7 linked regions of the Homo sapiens genome follow. The protein of the gene in region 1 purifies or fractionates together with the protein of each later gene. This does not show direct contact. Each region holds a gene or a part of one and is shown in the gene's direction. Other genes may lie near its edges. The genes, in order: NFX1, RBM5, RPL22, HNRNPM, RRP12, EIF3B and PRRC2C.

The links.
Region 2: the proteins of NFX1 (region 1) and RBM5 purify together in Homo sapiens (affinity purification with mass spectrometry, with the first as the bait; one large-scale study listed by BioGRID). This does not show direct contact.
Region 3: the proteins of NFX1 (region 1) and RPL22 purify together in Homo sapiens (affinity purification with mass spectrometry, with the first as the bait; 2 studies listed by BioGRID). This does not show direct contact.
Region 4: the proteins of NFX1 (region 1) and HNRNPM purify together in Homo sapiens (affinity purification with mass spectrometry, with the first as the bait; 2 studies listed by BioGRID). This does not show direct contact.
Region 5: the proteins of NFX1 (region 1) and RRP12 purify together in Homo sapiens (affinity purification with mass spectrometry, with the first as the bait; one large-scale study listed by BioGRID). This does not show direct contact.
Region 6: the proteins of NFX1 (region 1) and EIF3B purify together in Homo sapiens (affinity purification with mass spectrometry; 2 studies listed by BioGRID and IntAct, with this or other methods). This does not show direct contact.
Region 7: the proteins of NFX1 (region 1) and PRRC2C purify together in Homo sapiens (affinity purification with mass spectrometry, with the first as the bait; one large-scale study listed by BioGRID). This does not show direct contact.

The regions. Positions count from the first base shown.
Region 1 is NC_000009.12:33,293,516-33,297,015, forward strand, and holds part of NFX1 (transcriptional repressor NF-X1), read left to right. Parts: intron 1-904; coding exon 905-1,912; intron 1,913-3,500. UniProt on the Homo sapiens protein: Binds to the X-box motif of MHC class II genes and represses their expression. May play an important role in regulating the duration of an inflammatory response by limiting the period in which MHC class II molecules are induced by interferon-gamma.
Region 2 is NC_000003.12:50,095,419-50,098,918, forward strand, and holds part of RBM5 (RNA-binding protein 5), read left to right. Parts: intron 1-3,500. UniProt on the Homo sapiens protein: Component of the spliceosome A complex. Binds to ssRNA containing the consensus sequence 5'-AGGUAA-3'. Regulates alternative splicing of a number of mRNAs.
Region 3 is NC_000001.11:6,193,096-6,196,595, reverse strand, and holds part of RPL22 (large ribosomal subunit protein eL22), read left to right. Parts: intron 1-3,500.
Region 4 is NC_000019.10:8,451,475-8,454,974, forward strand, and holds part of HNRNPM (heterogeneous nuclear ribonucleoprotein M), read left to right. Parts: intron 1-3,500. UniProt on the Homo sapiens protein: Pre-mRNA binding protein in vivo, binds avidly to poly(G) and poly(U) RNA homopolymers in vitro. Involved in splicing.
Region 5 is NC_000010.11:97,366,841-97,370,340, reverse strand, and holds part of RRP12 (RRP12-like protein), read left to right. Parts: intron 1-66; coding exon 67-174; intron 175-758; coding exon 759-916; intron 917-3,208; coding exon 3,209-3,300; intron 3,301-3,431; coding exon 3,432-3,500.
Region 6 is NC_000007.14:2,368,327-2,371,826, forward strand, and holds part of EIF3B (eukaryotic translation initiation factor 3 subunit B), read left to right. Parts: intron 1-1,145; coding exon 1,146-1,356; intron 1,357-3,450; coding exon 3,451-3,500.
Region 7 is NC_000001.11:171,586,530-171,590,029, forward strand, and holds part of PRRC2C (protein PRRC2C), read left to right. Parts: intron 1-473; coding exon 474-692; intron 693-1,118; coding exon 1,119-1,222; intron 1,223-1,849; coding exon 1,850-1,976; intron 1,977-2,839; coding exon 2,840-3,076; intron 3,077-3,500. UniProt on the Homo sapiens protein: Required for efficient formation of stress granules.

The DNA.
Region 1 (3,500 bases):
ATGGGGCTAAGTAACTTTCCTGAAGTTAAAATAAGTGATAAGTGACTTAAACCCATGTCTTCCAGGTCTTACCAATTTATAGTATATTCTGTATGCTACACATAGTTCTGACTTTGCTACTAATTTTATGTCCTTAGGCAAACCATTTTGTCTTTGTGCTTCAGGGACTGAATTGACTGTACCAAGAAGCATCTTCTGGGGGAACATGAGTGGGTTGAAGGGGAGTATGCTTAATTTTTTCCACTTTGGGATTGTAGACCAGATTATAGAGGTTATGTATGGAAAACCCAAAATATATTCCTAGGGGAAAGAGATGAAAACTAATACACTTATTAAGTACTATCTATGAAATCATATTTAAATTTCTCAGTAACCGTTGAAATAAGTATTGTCATCCTTTACCATAGACAAGGAAACTAAGGCTAAAAGCAGGCACGTGATATCCCTAAGTTCATACAATAAGTTGGACAGGTGGACTTTAACCCATTTTGGCTTAGTCCAAAGCCTGTTTACTTGATATTACACAATGCTACTTTACTGTTTTGAAAGAAGACCACATGGAACCTGATGATTGATACCCCTGAACTGTTAGCTGGCCTTAAATTTTTGTAATAAAATGAATAGATGTATACATAGTACTTTATGGCCCAGGTGAGCATTTTTACTCGACAACACTTAGCTGTCATTGGCTATTGGTGTTTGGTTTTTGGACATGGAATAATGATTGATTAGTCCTCCACAAGCACCTTGAACCCATCACCTTCACTGGAAACATAGTTCTTACTTAACAGCATGTTTTATACAAAGTTCTAAGGAAAGTAATTTTTAGATTTGGCTTGGAGTCTATGAGTTTCATGGATGAAGTTTAATCTCTTTACTGGCATGTCTATTTTTTATGTCCTAGGTACTTTTAAATTCAATACAGATGCTGCTGAATTCATTCCTCAGGAGAAAAAAAATTCTGGTCTAAATTGTGGGACTCAAAGGAGACTAGACTCTAATAGGATTGGTAGAAGAAATTACAGTTCACCACCTCCCTGTCACCTTTCCAGGCAGGTCCCTTATGATGAAATCTCTGCTGTTCATCAGCATAGTTATCATCCGTCAGGAAGCAAACCTAAGAGTCAGCAGACGTCTTTCCAGTCCTCTCCTTGTAATAAATCGCCCAAGAGCCATGGCCTTCAGAATCAACCTTGGCAGAAATTGAGGAATGAGAAGCACCATATCAGAGTCAAGAAAGCACAGAGTCTTGCTGAGCAGACCTCAGATACAGCTGGATTAGAGAGCTCGACCAGATCAGAGAGTGGGACAGACCTCAGAGAGCATAGTCCTTCTGAGAGTGAGAAGGAAGTTGTGGGTGCAGATCCCAGGGGAGCAAAACCCAAAAAAGCAACACAGTTTGTATACAGCTATGGTAGAGGACCAAAAGTCAAGGGGAAACTCAAATGTGAATGGAGTAACCGAACAACTCCAAAACCGGAGGATGCTGGACCCGAAAGTACCAAACCTGTGGGGGTTTTCCACCCTGACTCTTCAGAGGCATCCTCTAGAAAAGGAGTATTGGATGGGTATGGAGCCAGACGAAATGAGCAGAGAAGATACCCACAGAAAAGGCCTCCCTGGGAAGTGGAGGGGGCCAGGCCACGACCAGGCAGAAATCCACCAAAACAGGAGGGCCACCGACATACAAACGCAGGACACAGAAACAACATGGGCCCCATTCCAAAGGATGACCTCAATGAAAGACCAGCAAAATCTACCTGTGACAGTGAGAACTTGGCAGTCATCAACAAGTCTTCCAGGAGGGTTGACCAAGAGAAATGCACTGTACGGAGGCAGGATCCTCAAGTAGTATCTCCTTTCTCCCGAGGCAAACAGAACCATGTGCTAAAGAATGTGGAAACGCACACAGGTAAACCTACCTAGATAGGAAATATTTTGTTGTCTTTTTAATTTAAATTTTTAAATAAGTCATATATTCACATAATTTAGAAAGCAGAAAGTATGGAAAGTTACACTGTAAAAAGTCTCAATCTTTATTCACTGTCTGCCTAAGTTCTACCACCACTCGCTGCTCCCTGCCCCAATAGGTAACCACTTAGTTTTATGCATATCACAAGCAAATACAAATAAGAATTCTTTTTCTTTTCCAAATGAGGAATTTTGTAAGGGTTTTCAAAAATGCAAATACGGGTGGTGTAGATGTCTGGTTACAAGATTTTTTTTGAGTTGTGAAAACAAGTGGTGGGTGGTAACATCTCTGCTGCCTCTTTTGGTTTCATCCTGCATCATCTAATCTGCCTCATCTGGTCTGCTTAGTTGCAGCAGTTCCTAACTGGTCTTATCATCTCTTAATTTCTCTCTTTCAGTTCACCTCTTAAACCAGCATCAGAGAGCAATCTTTATAAAACACATATTTTATTTATTTGTTTTTTTGAGAGGAGTCTCACTGTTGCCCAGGCTAGAGTGCAGTGGTGCGATCCCAGCTCACTGCAACTCCTCCTGGGTTCAGATGATTCTCCTGCATCAGCCTCCCGAGTAGCTGGGATTACAGGCGCCCGCCACCATGCTTGGCTGATTTTTGTATTTTTAGTAGAAATGGGGTTTCACCATGTTGGCCAGGCTAGTCTCAAACTTCTGACCTCGGGTGATCCGCCTCGGCTTCCCAAAGTGCTGAGATTACAGGCGTGAGCCACTGCGCCCTGCCTAAAACACACATTAAACTGTGTCACTCCTCTGCTTAATTCCGTTTACTGCTTCTGCCTTACTCAACAGTCCCATCTTCTGCTGCCTCAATATCTACCACATTTTATTCCCTGGATTCTACACTTTTTTGTCTTTGCATGGTGTTGCATGTGGCTCCCTCTCTTTAGAATTTCTGTCACTCAGTTCGCTGACGAAGTCTTACTCATTTTTCAAAAGCTACTTTAGGCCAGGCATGGTGGCTCACACCTGTAATTCCTGCACTTGGGGAGGCTGAGGTGAGAGGATCACTTGAACACAGGTGTTCAAGACCAGCCTGGGCAACATAAGGAGACCCTGTCACTACAAAAGAATTAAAATAAAAAAATTAGCCAGGCATGTTAGCACATGCCTGTAGTCCCAGACACTCAGGAAGCTGAAGTGAGAGGATCACTTGAGCCCAGGAGATCGAGGCTGCAGTGAGCTATTGTACTCCAGCCTGGATAACAGAGCAAGACCCTGTTTTGCGGGGGGAAAAAAGTTACTTTAGTCACATGTCCAGGGAACCTTTTCTCACCTTTATAGATAGCGTTAATCTCTTACAGCCCTCACGCTTATGTCTTTCTCTTAAATTTGCATGCTTCTATTACAGAACTTACACTGGAAACCATAATTTATTTATGCTTCATTGTCCTCCACTAGTCTGTAAGCTCCTTAAAAACAGACACTGTATATTTCTTTTCTTTTTTTGTGACCCTGCTGCCCCACACAGCTCTTGAAACATAGTAGGTACTCAGTTCTGACCATTAAAAAGTTCA
Region 2 (3,500 bases), on another chromosome or scaffold:
AACTACCCATTTGAAACCTCAGAAAAGCTTGTTAAAAAGGACGGCTCATTCAGACTGGCCAATTAGAGTCTTAGTGTACTTGGCACTGCCTGATTTCCAGCAGCATCTCTGGTCCTCACCCTTCCTTCCAGCCACACCCTACTTTCCACATCCTGGACTTTGGACATGTCCATTGCTCTACTGTTGTGCCTTTTTCTGCTTGGAGACGCCTGTATGTAAAGCCTGATCTATCGGGCAGAGCTTCTTCTTCGTTATTCTCTTCCTAAGGCACTGTATTCATGACTTTTGTGTAGCACCTTTACTGTAGCCATCAACACACATGTCTCATCTCTACCACAAGATCTCTGAAAATAGGCCTCTGTGTGAACTAGTCACCTCTGTGTCCCCAACCCTTGAACACAGTATGTTACTCAGCCAGTGCTCTTGGTAAAAATGAATGTGAGGTTTTAAAACAGCAGTGTGCCAGTATTTGTTTTCTTGGAGTAATCAAAGTAATATTCTGACTAATGTTTAGTTGAATTTTGGATAAAGCTCAAAATAAGCATTGGATTCCCGTAGCTTTGGGTTTCTAAACCCTGGAAGTAATGAATGTGACAAATGTGAGACAGGATATTAGAGTTAATAGTGGGTAATCATTCCATTATTTGTGATCCACTGCACATCTGCTACACTGTACATGTTAGATGCTACAGTGACACAGAGCTATGGATCTTGCCTCAAAAAAGCTTATGGATGAGTAGCTAAGGTCAGCAGATAATGGTGACAATGCAGAATAGAAAGGGGTCAGAGGCCGAGTATGGTAACTCATGCCTGTAATCCCAGCACTTCGGGAGGCCAAGGTGAAAAGAGTGCTTGAGCCCAGGAGTTCAAGTCCAACCTGGACAACATGGTAAGACGCATCTCTCCAAAAAAAAAAAAAAATAGCCAGTCTTAATGGCGCTTGTCTGTGGTCCCAGTTACTTGGGAGACTGAGGCAGGAAGATCACTTGAGCCTAGGAGGTCAAGGGTACAGTGAGTTGTGTTCACGCCACTGCACTCCAGCCTGAGCGACAGAGCAAGACCCTGTCTCAAAAAGAGGGTCATGTCGGAAAAGGTCCTATTGAAAGAGGTCTGCCTAAGAGCTCTTGAAGGTTATTTAAAGGAAATTGTTACTAGTGGAGGGTAAGGAATCTTCTATTTTTATTTTTGTGAGACAGGGCCTTACTCTGTCGCATAGGCTGGAGTGCAATCGCGTGATTGTGGCTCACAGCAGCCTCCAACTTTTGGGGCTCAGGCAATCCACCAGCCTCAGCCTCCCAAGTAGCTGGGATTACAGGCATGTGTCACCACTCCGAGCTAATTTTTTTTTTTATCGTTTGTTTTTTTTTTTGTAGAGACAAGGTCTCTCTTTATTGCCTAGACTGGTCTTGAACTCTTGTCTTCAATCAATCCTCCCGCCTGGGTCTCCCAAAGTGCTAGGATTATAGGCGTGGAAAACTAAGGGAATGGTGTGGTAGATGGGCCCTTCAGGCGGAGGGGTATCACATGAGCAGGGAATAGAAAGGTACTGAATCTAGATAAGGCCTAGCAATCGGCTTGATTTGGCTGGAGTCAGAGGCTTTTGGCAGGAGAGGGATGAGTGGCAAAGTGCTATTGTGGCTAGGGGCTAGAGTTCTCAAAAGTCTAGCTAAGCCTAAAAGAATATTACTGAGGGTTGGCCAGGTGCGGTGGCTCACGCCTGTAATCCCAGCACTTTAGGATTCTGAGGCAGGCGGATCACAAGGTCAGGAGATCGAGACCATCCTGGCTAGCACGGTGAAACCCTGTCTCTACTAAAACTACAAAAAAATTAGCCAGCCGTGGTGGCGGGCGCCTGTAGTCCCAGTTACTCAGGAGGCTGAGGCAGGAGAATGGCATGAATCTGAGAGGCGGAGCTTGCAGTGAGCCGAGATCGTGCCATTGCACTCCAGCCTGGGCGACAGAGCAAGACTGTCTCAAAAAAAAAAAAAAAGAAACTGCTACAAGTATTGATTTGAGTGTTAGAAATTTTAATGAGTGGTTGAATTCACAGGTGTGATACCTGAGGATAATGAGGATTGGCTGTGTGTAGTCTTGCAGCCGTTGCACCTAGTTATGGAAAGTAGAGGCCAGTGAGAATCTTGTTTCCACAAATTTCACCCTGTTTTTTTTTTCATGGTAGTATTCATGCCTGATATTATTGATGAAGAGACTAGTATATTTTTGTGGCCTTTTGGAAAAAGGAGTTGGTCTGACATTGGAACAAGCCTACCAGCCAGAATACTTTATTCTAGCCCCAATTAATGTTTGATTTATTAGGAGCCTAAGAATGTGATGAACTTTGAAAATTTTTACCAATAATTTAACTGTAAGAAAAGTATGATCCATTAAAAATGTTTACCTGGCCTGGTGCGGTGGCTCACGCCTGTAATCCCAGCACTTTGGGAGGCCAAGGTGGGTGGATTACCTGAGCCCAAGAGATGGAGACCAGCCTGGGCAACATGGTGAAACCCCTCTCTACTAAAATATAAAATATTAGCTGGGTGTGGCGACATGCGCCTGTAGTCCCAGCTACTCTTGAGGCTGAGGCAGAATTGCTTGAACCCAGGAGGCGGAGGTTGCAGTGAGCCGAGATCATGCCATTGCTCTCCAGCCTGGGCAACAGAGTGAGACTCCATCTCAAAAAAATTTAAAAAAAAGTTTATCATCAGGCTCTTCATTTTTTGGCTGTTGATTTTTTTCCTTATTTTGAGAGTAGGCCTCAAAGAGCAGGAAGGCTATTCTTGATTAGGCGTACTTCAGGGCACAGTGACGCATCCACTGCCTCTTTTAAATCTCATCTGAGTCCTTATTTTTATTTTTTTATTTTTTTAAAGATAGGGTTGCACTTTGTCACCCAGGCTGGAGTGCAGTGGTGCAATAGCCCATTGTAACCTCGAACTCCTGGGCTTAAACAGTCCTCCCACCTCAGCCTCCCAGGTAACTAGGACTACAGGTGTATACCATCATGCTTGGGTAATTTTTATTTTATTTTATTATTTTTTTTTGAGACGGAGTCTCACTCTTGCCCAGGCTGGAGTGCAGTGGCGCGATCTCGGCTCACTGCAACCTCCGCCTCCCGGGGTCAAGCGATTCTCTTGCCTCAGCCTCCCAAGTAGCTAGGACTACAGGCACGTGCCACCACGTCTGGCTGATTTTTTGTATTTTTAGTAGAGACGGGATTTCACTGTGTTAGCCAGGATGGTCTCCATCTCTTGACCTCGTGATCCACCTGCCTTGGCCCCCCAAAGTGCTGGAATTACAGGCGTGAGCCACTATGCGAGGCCTAATTTTTAAAATTTTTGTATACAGATGGGGTCTTACTGTGTTCCCCAGGCTGGTCTCACACTCCTGTGCTCAAGCGCTCATCTTGCCTCATCTTCCCAAAGCGCTAGGATTATAGGCTTGAGCCACTGTACTATCCTGCAGAACAAAGGACAGGGAGATTAGACTAAAGGATGGAG
Region 3 (3,500 bases), on another chromosome or scaffold:
TGTGTAGAAGTCTCCTAAATTTGCATTTGCTCTAAATTCTCCAGAAGGTTGAACTATTGCCAGGATCAGTATCATTACAACAAAAATAATTTTTAAACACAAAATAATTATGGTCACGAATTATCCAGAATGGAATTTAGGTAACCTCTTATAGTTTATTGCCTTTATGTAGATGCTGTTTGCATCTGTGTCCTTCAAGAAATCCCCTATTTCCTTAGTTCTTTCTCTATCCAGTGACTTCTGGCTTTTCTGTGGCCTCCTCTTTTTCAACTTTGGTGTCTTCCAGTTTGGTATTCACATGGTGGCCCTGTTCTGGCATTATTCCTGCCTCCCTCCCTCTGAGCCATTCCCTCAGCCCACTCATCTGTTTGTGTGATTGTCTTTCCTTCTGGAAGCCTCCTTAGGATAGAAAACTTAAGTCATTTATGAATCTTGAGATGCAGAATTCAAGATTTCTGACCTAATCACTCTGTGCCCCATCTATGGTTAATGTATACTTTTTGTTTATTTTATTTTATTTACTTTGTTTTTTGAGACCAAGTTTTGCTCTTGTTGCCCAGGCTGGAGTGCAATGGTGCAGTCTCGGCTCACCACAATCTCCGTTTCCCTGGTTCAAGCCATTCTGGTGTCTCAGCCTCCCGAGTAGCTGGGATTATAGGCGCCTGCCACCACGCCTGGCTAATTTTTGTATTATTAGTAGAGATGGGGTTCCTCCATGTTGGTCAGGCTGGTCTCGAACCCCTGACTTTAGGTGATCCACCCACCTCGGCCTCCCAAAGTGCTGGGATTACAGGCATGAGCCACTGCGCCTGGCCATTTTATTTTATTTTTATTTATTTATTTTTGAGGTGGAATCTCACTCTGTCACCCAGGCTGGAGTGCAATGGTGTGATCTTGGCTCACTGCAACCTCCACCTTCCAGGTTTAAGTGATTCTCTTTCTCAGCCTCCCGAGTAGCTGAGATTACAGGCGTGTGCCACCATGCCCACCTAATTTGTGTATTTTTGTGGTAGAGACGGCGCTTCACCATGTTGGCCAGGTTGGTCTTGAACTCCTGACCTCAGGTGATTTGCCAGCCTCGGCCTCCCAAAGTATCGGGATTACAAGCATGAACCGCTGTGCCCAGCCAAATTTTTTTTTTTTTTTTTTGAGACGGAGTCTTGCTCTTTGTCACCCAGGCTGGAGTGCAGTGGTGTGATCTCGGCTCACTGCAAGCTCCGCCTCCCATGTTCATGCCATTCTCCTGCCTCAGCCTCCCGAATAGCTGGGACTACAGGTGTCTGTCACTATGCCCGGCTAATTTTTTGTATTTTTAGTAGAGACAGAGTTTCACCGTGTTAGCCAGGATGGTCTCAATCTCCTGCCTTTGTGATCCGCCTGCCTCGGGCTCCCAAAGTGTTGGGATTACAGGCGTGAGCCACCGCGCCTGGCCCCAAATTTTTATTTATTTATTTATTTTGAGACGGAGTCTTGCTCTGTTGCCCAGGCTGGAATGCAGTGGCACGATCTTGGCTCACTGTAAGCTCCGCCTACCGTGTTCATGCCATTCTCCTGCCTCAGCCTCCCAAGTAGCTGGGAAACAGGCGCCCGCCACCACGCCTGGCTAATTTTCTGTATTTTTAGTAGAAACAGGGTTTCACCATGTTAGCCAGGATGGTCTCGATCTCCTGACCTCGTGATCTGCCCACCTCAGTCTCCCAAATTTTTATTTTTTGAGAAAGGGTCTGTTGTCCAGGCTGGAGGGCAGTAGCATGATCCTGGCTCACTGCAGCCTCAACCTCATAGGCCCAAGTGATCCTCCCACCTCAGCCTCTGGAATAGCTGGCACCACAGGCATGCACCACCATACCTAGCTAATTTTTAAATTTTTTTGTAGAGGAAGGGTCTTCCTAAGTTGCCCAGGCTCGTCTTGAACTCCTGGGCTTGAGCAATCTTCCTGCCTTGGCTTCCCAAAGTGCCGGGATTACAGGTGTGAGCTACTGCACCCAGCCAGTTAACATATTTTGTATTGGAGTTTTTAAACAGAAAATTATAGGAATTTTGAGCTGAAAGGGACTTCATGTCATTGCCATAGCAAGAAAACAACTAAAAAGGTCCTTTTTGGGCAAAGCTTTCTGAAGCACAAGGAGGTGAATGTCTTGCTGAGGCCCACACAGTAGTTTGCAGAGAATATCTCAGGCTCCTGAGTGGCTGCTGCTTCTGCTGTACCACACATGGCCCTGGACCAGGTCTAGAATTGTTTCAGTCCCTATGTCTTTGCTCTTTCTACTAGGTTGAAGGCTTATTTTCTGATAGTGCTGTGAACAGTGTTTTATACTCCTTAGATTCAGAAGTTGCTTTTAGCTTTGGTTGCATGTACCTTGTAAAAGTTTGTTTTATTTATTTATTTTTTGAGACAGGGTCTCTCTGTCCCCCAGGCTGGAGTGCAGTGGTGTGATCTCGGCTCACTGCAACCTCCGCCTCCTGGGCTCAAGGGATTCTCCTGTCTCAGCCTCCTGAGTAGCTGGGACTACAGGCACATGCCACCACACCCGGCTAATATTTGTATTTTTTGTAGAGAGAGGGTTTCGCCATGTTGCCTAGCCTGGTCTCAAATTCCTGAGCTCAGGAGATCCACCCACCTCAGCCTCTCAAAGTGCTGGGATTACAGGCGTATCTTGTAAAAGTCTGGCCTTGGGTTTCCTGTCTAGTGTTGTCCTTCTAAGCCTTTCGTGGCGAGGCCCAGTCGGCCTTGTGTGGAAGTAGTCAAGTACGTTTACACTGGGATGTTGTCTCATAGTATGTATGTAAATGGGATTTGTTACCATTTTTAAAAAAGACTGAACATTTAAGAAACCGATATTAGGGCCAGGTATGCTGGCTCACACCTGTAATCCCCACGCTTTGGGAGGCTGAGGTGGGAGGATCACTTGAGCCCAGGAATTTGAGACCAATCTAGCCAACATAGAGAGACCCCTTCTCTTAAAAATGTTAAGCCAGGCGCAGTGGCTCACGCCTGTAATCCCAGCACTTTGGGAGGCAGAGGTGGACGAATCACCTGAAGTCGGGAGTTGGAGACCAGCATGACCAACGTGGAGAAACCCCGTCTCTACTAAAAATACAAAATTAGCTGGGCCTGGTGGCGAATGCCTGTAATCCCAGCTACTTGGGAGGCGGAGCAGGAGAATCACTTGAACCTGGGAGGCGGAGGTTGCAGTGAGCCGAGATCGCGCCATTGCACTCCAGCCTGGGCAACAAGAGCTAAACTCCATCTCAAAAAAAAAAAAAAAAAATTGTAAAGTCAGCTGGGGCCAGGTGGGATGGCTCATGCCCGTAATCCTAGCACTTTGAGAGGCTGAGGTGGGAGGATCACTTGAGTCTGGGAGGTCGAGACTTGAGCTTGGGAGGTTGAGACTGCAGTGAGCTGTGATTGCGCTGGTGAGACTCTGTCTCCAAAACCAAAACAAAAAATGATATTAGTTCAGTGTTGGGAGACAGATAAAATATTCTGTTGAGACAGA
Region 4 (3,500 bases), on another chromosome or scaffold:
TTTTCAGGACATCACTTTTATACTATCACATCATCTAAACTTGAATATGTCCCTCCCCTTCCCCTTCCCCTTCCCTTGCCGAGACAGGGTCTCCCGCTGTTACCCCCGGCTGGAGTGTAGTGGTGCAATCATGGCTTACTGTACCCTTGACCTCCTGGAGCCAGACTGTCTTCTTTCTGCATAGCTGGGACCGCAGTTGTGCACCAACATACCTGGCTAATTTTTTGTATTTTTTTTGTAGGGACACGGTTTTGCCATGTTACCCAGGCTGGTCTCAAGACTCCTGGATTCAAGCACTCAGCTCACCTCAGCCTCCCAAACTGCTGGGACTGCAGGCATGAGCCACCATGGCCAGTCTGCTTGAATATGTGTCTCGAATGATATTTCTTTGAGGGTCATTCTCTACAAGTCTGTCAAGAATTAGTTGGTGGTGGTAGATTTCCAAAAAGGTCAATTTTTTAAAAGTTGGAAATGACAAGAGATAGTTCTAATCTCTTTACTGAGGAAACCTCTCAGAGGGAATGATTAGCCAGGGAAGGATTTGTTTGCAGAGGTGCTGTGCCCATTAAGCATGGTGAGAGCCGCTTTCTCAATGGTGAGTCATGTGATGTGGATTAACCCCAAACCAAATGCTCAGCTTCTGTGGTTAGATTGGATAGTTTATTCGTAGCCATGGTATGCACCTGTGGAATATAGGTTAGACACTTTGTTACCTGCTTTGGCTGTAATTATTTATTTATACATTTCGTAGTTTATAGGTGAGCTTAAGCAGTCTGGTGAAAGACTGGAAATAATTCATCATGGACTCTGTCAGAATGTTTTTTATTGTAAATCTTAAAGTATTTGGGACTTCAAAAGTAACAATATTAAAATTCATTTCCATCTGTGAATCCTCTGGTGGACCATGATGTGTAGATTCTGTTATGTTTTATGATTTTTTCTAACACAGTCGTCGTCATTTTCCAGGAAAGAGTAGGAGATGATTTGGCAGATAGATTTTGTTTGGCAGACTTTGGTGAAGGACTTTCTTTTGGAGTAGACAAGTGGCCTGGGTAACAGTTGTAGGTCTCCTGTGGGACCTGCTTTGTGGTGTGAAGCCAGTCTTGTGGACTCAGGTAGATTGCGTTCTAGGCATCTAGGGATTGGAGCTGCCATAACATCACCTTATCTGCCAGCCCGTGGGAAGGGAAGCCTGTTGATTGTGTATTGGTATAGTTGAGAGATCACAGAGGAAGCTGCTTTCCTTGGTTTTACCTTGTGTTGATTTGGGTGTGGCTCACACCAGTGATACCTCTGCTGGGATACCACTTGGCACTCTTGTGTTTGGGGACTACACAAAGTTGCTGACTTTAAAATTTTTCCAAGTAAATACGTTACTATTTTTGAGACAGGGTCTTGCTTTGTCAACCAGGCTGGAGTGCAGTGGTGCAATCATAGTTCACTGCAATCTTGACCTCCTGGACTGGAGCCATCCTCTCAGCTCAGCCTCCTGAGTAGCTGGGACTACAGGTGCACAACACCACACTCAGATAATTATTATTATTTTTAAAAATAAAGACAGGGTCTTATTTGTCGAACTCTTGGGTTTAAGTAAGATTCTCCTGCCTTGACCTCCCAAAGTGCTGGGATTATAGGTGTGAGCCACCATACCTGGTCTCAAGTGAATACTTTTGTTTGTTTGTTTGGAGACAGAGTCTCATTATGTCACTCAGGCTGGAGTGCAGTGGTGCGGTCTCAGCTCACTGCAACCTCCGCCCCCCGGGTTCAAGCGATTCTCCTGCCTCAGCCTCCTGAGAGGTGGGATTGCAGGCATGTGCCACCACGCCCAGCTAATTTTTGTATTTTTAGTAGAGATGGAGTTTCAGCATGTTGGCCAGGCTGGTCTTGAACTCCTGACCTCAAGTGATACACCTGCCTGAGCCTCCCAAAGTGCTGGGATTACAGATGGGAGTTACCACACCTGGCCTCAACTAAATAACATTTTAAAATAGTAGCTTCTCCAGCTACTATCTGGTGTTTCTTCCACGGAAGAAAGTTACATCCCAGAATAAAGATCGGCTCTTCAGTTAAAGATACTTTTATAAATCATTAATACTGTAGTCTTGGCTTTTTGGTTTTTTTTCCGGTTTTGTCATGGATTACAAATTCTGTAGTAGAGCCCGTGGTCTGGGAGTCACTGGATTCTCACTGGCGGGACACACAGGGCTGGGGAAGCAGAAGGTGCAAGGCTCAGTTGCTTAAGAAACTTGAGGTGGCTTCTGGCTCCTCACTTGTTCCTGATCAGCTCTAATCTGTGCCTCCCTGTAGTCAGAGGGGTTGCGCTTGAGCTGGCAGCTGAGGAAAGCGCCCTGTCAGCCAGTGCCCGGGCTTCCAAGCCTGATGGCTGCTACCTAGAGATGGTTAGTGTTAACAGTGTGGTGGCACCTAGCACACAAAGGTAAAGAGTGCAATGGGAAGGCCGTGCCAGAAAAGCAGCCACCCTTCTTTGCCAAAGGTGGGATTGTCTGCATGCTGTCTTCCACCTCCCAGGGTTGCTCAGACCCAAGTTTCCCAGCTTCAAAGTAGTAGGATTGTGTAGGGAGTGGTTTCTTTTCCACCTTTCTGGATTTTTAAAAAGTGGTTAAAATATACATAAAATAGACCATTTTAACCATCTTAAGTGTGCAGTGAAGTATGATGTTTTGCAGCAATCTGCACATTCCTGGAACTTTTATTCTCATCCCACATGAAATTCTATGCTCAGTATTTAATAACTTCCCATTTCTACCTCCCCCTAGGCCCAGGTAACCTCTGTTCTACTTTCTGTGTATGGATTTGCTTATTATAGGTATTTAATAAGTGGAATCATACAATATTTGGCCTTCAGTGACTGGCTTATTTCACTGAGCATAATGCCCTCAAGGTTCATGCATGTTGTAGCCTTTGTCAGGATTTCCTTCCTTTTTGTGGCTGAATAATATCCCATTGCATGGATAGTCCGTGTTTTGTTTATTCCATTCATCTATTGGTAGACACTTGGTTGTTTCTACCTTTTGGCTTGTGTGAGTAGTGCTGCTATGAACATTGGCATATGTGTATGAGTCCCTGCTTTTAATTCTTTTGGGTGTATACCTAGCAGTGGAATTGCTGGGTCATAGTAATTCTGTGTTTAATTTTGAGTGACTACCTAACTTTTCCATGGCGGCTGCATCATTTTATGCCCCCCCCCCCTTTTTTTTTTTAACACTATGAAAGACACTTATTTGTGAAGCTAAAATTGGATGGGCCTATGTGTACTACCTCATATTTCCATTCTATGAAGTCTTAGAAATCATCCCTCTCTTCTCCTGTTTCTGTCTTGGAATTAACACACCTTGGTCAGGGAGTTGGCCTCACCATTGTCTCTGTTACTGTCCGTAGGAGTATTTTGTGAGCCCAGGAAGGTGTACCTTTCCTTGGGAATGCTTTCTGCCCTGTGGAGCCTTGAGTTTGAATGTCTTAATTCAAAACCAACATTAGTC
Region 5 (3,500 bases), on another chromosome or scaffold:
TCTGGCCCTCAGCCCCCCTACCTGGTGGGTCCTTCCTGCTTGACCCACGTTGGTCTCTGTCCCCAGAGGCCCTGCAGTGCTACCTCGTCCTGATCTACCCTGGCCTGGTGGGCGCGGTGACCATGGTCAGCTGCAGCATCCTGGCCCTGACCCACCTCCTTTTCGAGTTTAAAGGTAAATGCTTATTTCCTAGAAGGCCTGAGAAGCCCTCAGATTAGGAAGATGCCCAAAAGGTCAGGATAAAGTGGCTCCTGGAACTGGGAAAAGGTGCCTGGAGGAAGTAAGAAAAGCCACACCCAGCCCAGTTTGCCTCCCTGTCTCCCTTCCTGCGGGTCGCTGCCTCCCGCCCTTGCGGCTATGCCAAGGCACCTTCCTCAGGTCTGTCCCCACGTGTGACTGTGCAGTCCAGTGGCCCTGCATCCCATTGTCAGAGTGGTTAGGAGGTGGTTAGGGCTGATGCCTGGATTTTAGTCCTAGTCCTGCCTCTTGGCAACCACATGAGACCTAGAACAGCTTGATTAGCCTCTTAGCACCTCAGTTTCTTATCTCTAAAATGGAAGCAAGAAATAGCACCCACCTCAGGGTGACGAAAGGACCCAAGACCACTCCATGGAGCGTGATTGGAACCATCCCGGGCATACGGAAAGGCTCTCAATGTCAGCTTTTACTGACACTTGAGTGGCTGTTTTCCAGTGGGGAAGGTTTGGGTCTGAGTGGGGTCCTGGGTGTCTTAGACAGTGACCCCCTCACTGCCACAGGTCTGATGGGGACCAGTACAGTGGAGCAGCTGCTGGAGAATGTGTGCCTGCTTCTGGCCTCCCGCACCCGTGACGTGGTCAAGTCTGCACTGGGCTTCATCAAGGTGGCAGTGACTGTCATGGACGTGGCGCACCTGGCCAAACATGTGCAGCTGGTGGTGAGTGTCCCCGTTCCCCTTAGCAGGTAGCAGGGTGGCCTCTGAGCTGTTGGCATGGACCTGGCAAGCTTCGAGGCCAGCAAGTTTCAAACTATTTTTTTTGTAGCCAGAGGTCATTAAGGAGCCCTAAAAGGGACCATAGGGGAATGCCTGTCAGGTGGAGGCGAGGAGGGGGCACACTGCCCAGGTGGCTTTCTTCACCCCAGAGCCCTACATGGAAAGCAACAGGGGCTCTTCAGGGCAAAGGCCCATGGGCAGGGCCACTCCTCATTTTACAGATGGAGAAACTGGGCCAGAGATTTTCCAGATCATGGGACTCAGACGCTGGGCTCTCCCTCCACAGGACCCCCTCATCTTGCCTTTTTTTTTTTCCCATCTTGCATTTTGACCTTGCTGGTTAGAGGCCATTCCTTTGGGTCCCCTGCTGGGCTGCAGAAGGATCTGAAGAGCCCCTTGGTATAGGGTCCCTGGCCCTCTCCTGCCCAAGAGAAGCCTTGCCCAGGCTGGCGTAGGCTTCCAGCCAAGCTGTGCACTGTACCTACTGCCTCAGTTTCCCATGTGTGACTGGCTTGAGTCACATCAGACCTCTGGGTCCCTCTTGCATATTTTCTTTGGGTCTGGCCTTGGGTTCAAGATAGGAAGGGACAGATGAGAATCAGCATGCCCTCCCGCTGCCCTCGGAGCCTGCAGCCTACTAGGGACCAAAGGTGGGGAGAACAGCTAGAGCAGTGATCCATCATGGAGTTATTCGAATTTATACAAGCCCTGGCCGGCTGCAGTGGCTCACACCTGTAACCCCACCACTTTGGGAGGCCAAGGCAGGCAGATCACTTGAGTTCAGGAGTTTGAGACCAGCCTGGCCAACATGGTGAAACCCCATCTCTACTAAAAATACAAAAATTAGCTGGGCGAGGTGGCAGGTGCCTGCAATCCCAGCTACTCGGGAGGCTGAGGCAGGAGAATCACTTGAACCTGGGAGGCGGATGTTGCAGTGAGCCAAGATTGCACCACTACACTCCAGCCTGGGTAACAGAGCAAGACTCTGTCTCAAAAAAAAGGGATTTATAGAAGCCCTTCCAAGAGTGGTTGGGGAGGCCAGGAGCGGTGGCTCACACCTATATTCCTAGCACTTTGGGATGCCAAGGTGGGTGGATCACTTGAGGTCAGGAATTCGAGACCAGCCTGGCCAACATGGTGAAGCCCCATCTCTACTAAAAAATACAAAAATTAGCCAGGCATGGTGGTGCGCGCCTGTAGTCCCAGCTGTTCATGTGGCTGAGGTGTGAGAATTGCTTGAACCTGGGAGGCGGAGGTTGCAGTGATCCGAGACCATGCCATTGCACTCCAGCCAGGGTGACAGAGCAAGACTCTGTCTCAAAAAAAAAAAAAAAAAAGCCAGGCACAGTGGCTCACACCTGTAATCCCAGTACTTTGGGAGGCCAAGGTGGGCGGATCGCCTGAGGTTGGGAGTTCAAGACCAGCCTGGCCAGTATGGTAAAACCCTGTCTGTACTAAAAATACAAAAATTAGCCAGGCGTGATAGCAGGCACCTGTAATCCCAGCTATTCAGGAAGCTGAGGCAGGAGAATTGCTTGAACCCAGGAGGTGGAGGTTGCAGTGAGCTGAGATCGTGCCATTGCACTCCAGCCTGGGCAACAGAGCGAGACTCCATCTCAAAAAAAAGGAGTAGACGTGGACCCTATCCCCTAGCCGGTTTGGGAGTCACTGGAGATAAGAAGATCTGCCACCTGCACATGTAACCCAAACTGGGCCAGATGAAGGCTTAAGAGGAATCCAGCCAGAGCAGAATGCAGTGAGATGGAAGGGACATAGGGGACCAAGAGAAATCTTGGGGTGCTAGGGGCAAAGCGGGAGCCGCAGCATTAGATGAGTCTGGGCTGAACTCCCACCTCTATGGCCATTTAGCAAACACTTTATCCTCTGTGCCGCCGTGTCCTCTTCTATAAATAGGGGGTGATAGCATGTATCTCAGGGGTAGTCCAAGGATTCAAGGAGAGGATATATGTCAAGTACCAAGTGCTGTTGAGAAGACTAAAGCTCTCATCCTGCGAGGGTGCTCAGGCCTGTGTCCTGAAGGAGGGTGCAGGGGAAAGATGGGGCCTGCCCACCCGAGGGAAGCATGACTGGGCCAGGGTGTGGGCCAGGAGCAGGGCCGCGCTAACCCTCCCCTCAGCTGGGCTTGATCATGCTGCGTCCCTGGGCTGGACAGCAGTAAAGGGGGCGCAGCATGGAAGGCTCGCCTCCCTGAAAGCCTGGTGCTCTGTCCGGCAGATGGAAGCCATTGGGAAGCTTTCAGATGACATGCGGCGGCACTTCCGCATGAAGCTTCGGAACCTGTTCACCAAGTTCATCCGCAAGTTTGGGTCTGTGCACTGAGCAGGGGCGGGGGTAGGGCAAGCGAGGGGCCGAGGATTTCCAGTCCTACCAGGGACACTACATCTGGGTCGTGCTGTCTGGCCAGTGCCTCTCACCAGCCCTTCCTTGCCACCTCCAGATTTGAGCTGGTGAAAAGGCTGTTGCCCGAGGAGTACCACAGAGTCCTGGTCAACATCCGGAAAGCTGA
Region 6 (3,500 bases), on another chromosome or scaffold:
GAAGAGTCGGGGTTTCACCATGTTGGCCAGGCTGGTCTCGAACTCCTGACCTCAAGTGATCCGCCTGCCCGCCTCAGCCTCTCAAAGTGCAGGGATTACAGGTGTGAGCCACCGCGCCCGGCCTAAGGTGAGTTTGTTCTGGACACAAGGATGGAGGCTTGAGTCAGTGGGCAGCAAGGCTGCTCAGCATTGGGCCCGCCACCCTTGAGGCACCACTTCAGTGACCCCTTCCCGTGCCTAGAAATGAATTTTCAAGGCCAGAGCCTTGAGTCGGCTTCCTTCCATCTACCTCGTCTTTGATCTAGAAACTGAGGAGGGTGGGGTTTCCAGCCTTTTAAGGAAAAGAGGGGACTCTGCTTAGGTGAAAGGTTTTCCTGGTACTCTTCCATCCGAGGCAGGGTTTGGGGAGCCTTCGGCTCATTTTCACCAGCAAAGAATGGGCACGTTTTTATTTATCGCAAAACTTGGGACTGGTCAGTATCACGGCAGTGAACTTCCAACAATCCAAGGACATTGACGTTTCTTCTTTCGTTTTTACATTCTTGGGCAAAATTATGGCTTATAAAATGAAAAGACCAGGACGTTGGTTCTCAAAAAATGCAAAACAGCACATAGCGTGTATAAAGATGTTTTTCATGTAGGTGAGCTCAGGAGCCGTTCGTTACAGCAGCTCTTCTGTAGAGTAGTTGATAAAGTGGAGGGAGCTGCCCTTGTTCTTGCTCATTCCTTACACTTGATTTGCCATTTTCCCCATTTGCACCTTAATTAATCTTTAGATGACATGTAGCCAGATCCGTCAGCCTAAAACTTATTTGCCTCAAAGCAGCAGTGTGCGGTGTCTTAAGAGTGGGCTGACGGAGCCCAGGCTGGAGTCCATATGAGTCTGTGCGTGATGGTGGGGTTGCTAATATTCTGTCTGCATTCACTCCTTGTCACAGTGAGCACAGTAGTGCCACAGGGTCCTGGCGAGGACCTATGAAGCTGCGCGGCATGCCCAGAGCAGTGGCTGTGCAGAGGGAGCGCTCAGCGTCAGCTGTGACAGCATTGAGCTTCTATATAGCAAATGAGTTGTTCTATTCTCTTCTGCTTTTCAGTTTCGTCATCACTTGGTCTTTGCTTTAACATTTTATTTTCCTGTTCTGCAGAGACTTTTCTTGGTCTCCTGGTGGTAACATAATCGCCTTCTGGGTGCCTGAAGACAAAGATATTCCAGCCAGGGTAACCCTGATGCAGCTCCCTACCAGGCAAGAGATCCGAGTGAGGAACCTGTTCAATGTGGTGGACTGCAAGCTCCATTGGCAGAAGAACGGAGACTACTTGTGTGTGAAAGTAGATAGGACTCCGAAAGGCACCCAGGTATGTAGATTCCCACAGGAACTGACGATTCCTTATCCTGAGCTCTGAAGTGGCCACCGTATTGTTTGGAGGGTGTTAATGGATTTTTTTTTTTTTTTTTTTTTTTTTTTTTTGAGATGGAGTCTCACTCTGTCACCAGGCTGTAGTGCAGGAGTGCGATTTCGGCTCACTGCAGTCTCTGCCTCCTGGTTTCAAATGATTCTTCTGCCTCAGCTTCCCAAGTAGCTGGGACTATAGGCGTCCACCACCACGCTTGGCTAATTTTTGTATTTTTATTAGAGACAGGGTTTCACCATGTTGGCCAGGCTGGTCTTGAACTCCTGACCTTAGGTGATCTGCCCGCCTTGGCCACCCAAAGGGCTGGGATTACAGGCGTGAGCCACCGTGCCTGGCTGAGAATATTATTTTCTTTCTAAGCACAAGGAGTAGTATACTCAAGATTTATTTTTTTATTTTTTTATTTTTGGTGGTTGATCATTTAATATTTATTTTATCAAAAAATTGCCTGAGTTGGCTGGGTGTAGTGGCCCATGCCTGTAATCCCAGCACTTTGGGAGGCCGAGGTGGGCGGATCATGAGGTCAAGAGATTGAGACCATTCTGGCCAACGTGGTGTGAAACCCCATCTCTACTAAAAGTACAATAATTAGCTGGGCGTGGTGGGAGGCTCCTGTAGTCCCAGCTACTCGGGAGGCTGAGGCAGGAGAATCGCTTGAACCCAGGAGGCAGAGCTTGCAGTGAACAGAGCGAGATTGCGCCACTGCACCCCAGCCTGGCGACAGAGCCAGACTGCGTCTCACAAAAAAAAAGAAATTCCTGAGTTTTCCCTCTAATAGAAGTATTCTTCTTTCTTTTATGTTAAGAAAGCTTTAATTGACATGTAGTTCACATGCCTGAAAACACCCCTTTAGAGTGGTGAACTGGTTCAGTGGTTTTTCGTGTGTTCAGAGTTATGCAGCCACCACCACTCATTTCAGAACGTTTTCATCGGCTGGGTGCGGTGGCTCCCCCGGGGTGGGAGGGAGGATAGCTTGAGGCTAGGAGTTTCAGACCAGCCTGGGAAACACAGTGAGACCCCATCTCCACAGATAATTTTTAAAAGATAGGAAAAAGGCCGGGCACGGTGGCTCACGCCTGTAATCCCAGCACTTTGGGAGGCTGAGGCGGGGCATCACAAGGTCAGGAGATCGAGGGTTTAGTAGAAACCCCGTCTCTACTAAAAATGCAAAAAATTAGCCAGGCGTGGTGGCGGGTGCCTGTAGTCCCAGCTACTCGGGAGGCTGAGGCAGGAGAATGGCGTGAACCCGGGAGGCGGAGCTTGCAGTGAGCCGAGATTGCACCACTGCACTCCAGCCTGGGCAACAGAGTGAGACTCCGTCTCAAAAATAAATAAATAAATAAATGTTTTTGTCACCCTACAAAGAAACAACATACCTGTTAGCAGCCTCTCCGCCCAGCTCCTGGCATCACGAATGTCTATGATTTCCCTATTCTGAACACACAGCTGGAATCGGATACTATGCCACCTTCTGTGTTTGACCTCCTTCACGGAGCACAGCGTTCCCACAGCTGGTCCACGGTGCTGAGTGTCAGCAGTAATCTCTTGTTGGGTGGACCCCGTTTCTTGGCCTCCTTCCTCTGTTGATGGACATCAGGGCAGTTTTCCCTCAGACTCCTCGAGTAGGGCAGGACTTCTTGAAGGTTATGGCTACAGGACACCCCACTGTCTGAAGTGGTTTACCCAGCCCCATTGGTGTGCCTTTAGGGCCCTCAGGACCCTGGCCTGCAGCCTGCAGTGTGGACCCTGGGACTGCTTGTGCCCAAGTGTGGCGGGCAGGGCGGCTCCTGGAGGTGGGATCTGGGTCAGAGTTACTTCATGCATGTCCAGTGGCTTCCAGTAGACGTGGTGCCGGCAGTTCTCCAGCCTTAGAACCGTCTTCCATCCTGAGGGCTGTGGCTTTCATCACTGCACATGCTCGTGTGTGAACCAGGCATGCACACTGAATCTTTCATTGTGACGTTGATCTTTGATTTAAACCTTTTCTCATATTTTCACTGTCCAGAATGTCACCCCTTCCCCCTTTTTTTTAAACAGGGTGTTGTCACAAATTTTGAAATTTTCCGAATGAGGGAGAAACAGGTACC
Region 7 (3,500 bases), on another chromosome or scaffold:
GGATGTGTTCTATGTATTTTATTTTATTTTATTTTATTTTATTTTATTTTATTTTATTTTATTTTATTTTGAGACAGAGTCTCGCTCTGTCGCCAGGCTGGAGTGCAGTGGCAGGATCTCGGCTCACTGCAACCTCCCCCTCCTGGGTCCAAGTGATTCTCATGCCTCAGCCTCCCAAGTAGCTGAGACTACAGGCACATGCCACCACATGCAGCTAATTTTCGTATTTTTTTTTTTTAGTAGAGACAGGGTTTCACCATGTTGGCCAGGATGGTCTCGATCTCTTGACCTCGTGATCTGCCCGCCTTGGCCTTCCAAAGTGCTGGGATTACAGGCATGAGCCACTGCACCTGGCCGATGTGTTCTGTTTGAAATCTTACTCAAAAGTATTTGAAGAGTTGTGTATAGTTGTATGGATATGTCTGTAGTAAACAGAAACAAATTGCTTCAGTTTCTCTTTACTTATTTTCTAGGTTACAGTACCTTTACCAGCATCGCAGCTTTCCTTGCCTAATTTTGGATCTACAGGGCAACCTCTAATTGCTTTGCCTCAGACTCTTCAGCCCCCATTACAGCATACCACTCCCCAAGCACAGGCTCAGAGTCTGAGTCGTCCTGCACAAGTAAGCCAGCCTTTCAGAGGATTAATTCCTGCTGGAACACAGCATAGCATGATTGCAACCACAGGAAAAGTAAGTAAAGAGACATTTGCACAGGTTATTTGAGAATTTAAGGTAGTGTGTTCAGATATATGCATCTGTGTTATCTAAAAAACTAAAATGCGTCAGTTTTTACCACCCTGCAAAAATCTCAAACCCCAGTATATTTACATTTTATCTATTTACTTTTAATGTGTTTGGCCCCATCTAGTTTTTACCTAATAACAAAGAATTCACAAATTTATTGGAAGAATTGGATTTATAGTGTCTCTTGGGCTTATTTAATTATAAGTCTGTTTGGTCAGGTAATTCCATAATACTTGAAGCCTAACTATAGGAGTTTTGTACTAAGGTTCTTTGCCCTTTCCTAGATTACGTCTTCACGTATAGGACATGTAAACACAGCACTTAGCTTGTGGAATTAAAGAAATGTTAAGTTTATTTTATGCTTCTCCTCAGATGTCTGAAATGGAACTAAAAGCCTTTGGAAGTGGCATTGATATAAAACCAGGCACACCTCCAATCGCTGGTAGAAGCACCACACCAACATCTAGTCCCTTCCGGTAAAATGGGCATTTAAATTTGCTTATGAAATTCCAATTTGGTCACTATTTGTTAAATACTTATCAGTCCTGTGTGACATAATCCCTTTTCCAAGCAGAAAAGGAATTATTAAGACATTCTTTTTGATAGTTTTGTCTAAAATGTTAAGCTTTTAAATTATTTAAAATGTGTTTATTGTACTATATTTTAAGTAAATTCTTTTGTTACAGAGCAAACCTTTTTTTCTTTTATTTTTTTTGAGACAGAGTCTCACACTGTTACCCAGACTAGAGTGCAGTGCCATGATTATAGCTCACTGCAACCTCAAACACCTGGGCTCAAGCAAGCCTCCTGCCTCAGCCTCCTGAGTAGCTGGGACTACATACACGTGCCACCACACCTGGCTAATTTTTAAAAAAATATTGTCCAAGCTGGTCTCGAACCAGCCAATCTAACTGGTAACTGGTATCCTTTCTTACCTCTGCTCCTCCAATGTCTCTCTTCTACCAGAATGTTTTGGTAATCATCATAGTAAATTTTTACCAACTACCAAGTATGATGAAAATACCAAGAACGGTGTTTGCAAAAATCTAACAGCATTATTTACTTGGTATTACTATACTGACTAGTAATGGCTTCTTTCCAAGGGCTACTTCTACAAGTCCGAACAGCCAGTCCAGCAAAATGAACAGCATTGTCTACCAGAAGCAGTTCCAGTCAGCCCCTGCCACTGTGAGAATGACACAACCATTTCCTACACAGTTTGCACCCCAGGTGGGCAGACATAATTAAGAAATGAGTATTATTTACTTAAAAATAGTTGCTAATCTGATAAATTATTATCTTGCCTTATGTTAACCAGTTAAGAAGTACAGTTTTTAATAAAAAATTGTTTCTGAATTTAACAATAAATTTATTTTATAAAGATAGTCTGCGATTTATAGCCAGACATGGTAATTGTTTAGTTCTAAAGCAGACAAGAGAAATAGTTAAAAGATTCCCCACACAGCTCTGATAATGAGTCCTTTTCCTTTTAACTTTTTTTAAGGAGTTGACTTTTCAGCGAAGGGTCCCAGTGCTTGAAGTTTTCTAGGTTTAAAGTTGTTTTTTGTTGTTGTTAAGATATTTATGTGCAATTGAGATAAAATTTCCAAAAAGATGTTTTAATATATGTAAAAAATGTTGGCTTCTCTTCCCCTTGCTGATCGTATAAAAGGACTAAGAACTCTCACAAACTAGAACTGGTTCCTGAGAAATTCACATTTGTTGAATTAGTATTGATTTTATTTATCTTCAGATTACATTTGTTACAGGTGTGTGCCTTTTCTGCAACTACCTTTTGAAAAGATAGCCTAATTAAAAGTCTTTCTATCCCCCCTTCAGAATTTACAACTGAGATGCTAGGACCAACTGAAGTGCCATAGCATGCTTTGCCTAGTTTTTCTGTTAAACTCTCCAAGCATGGCCTGTTTATTCCTTGTCCTTGTTAATGGAATGGCACAATCTGTACACTTCCTTTCACTGGTAGGATGGGCACAGATTTACTCTGGGATGAGCCAACCTGGTCTAGTTGGCAGTTTTTTTTTTTTTTTTTTTTTTAACAGTTCAATGTTGTATGTTTTGTTTTTTTCACTCAGATTCTCTCCCAGCCTAACCTGGTCCCTCCATTGGTAAGAGCCCCACATACTAACACCTTCCCAGCGCCTGTTCAGAGGCCACCAATGGCACTGGCCAGTCAGATGCCTCCTCCGCTGACCACAGGCCTCATGAGCCATGCTCGTTTGCCACATGTAGCCAGGGGTCCTTGTGGATCACTATCTGGAGTCAGAGGTAATCAGGCCCAGGCTGCGTTGAAGGCTGAACAAGACATGAAGGTTAGTACAGTGTTAACAGCCAACAGATCAAGAATCTGTCTCTGAACCATGTCTTAAAATGCCTCTGGACCCATAACTGTATATCCAGGCATTCATTGTCTTAGCAGACTTAACCAAGCTAACTACTTTTATTCATTCCCCCTTTTTTTTCTTTTTTTTCCCCCATTCCCATTCCTTTCATCTTTTTTTTCTTTTTGTTTCTTTTTCTTTTTCTTTTTTTTTGCAACTGTAGTCAGGAAATGAATTAATGTCTTAAACTGTGGCCAAATGAATTGTTATCAAATAAATATTTGAGGGAGATCTGAGTTTAGATGCACACTTTTTTTTGGAATAGCAAAGAAGTAATATCAATTATTATAGACTTCCCCATTTTCTTTCTTTTTTTTTTTTTTTTTAATATATATTTTCTTCCCCCCTTTCCCCT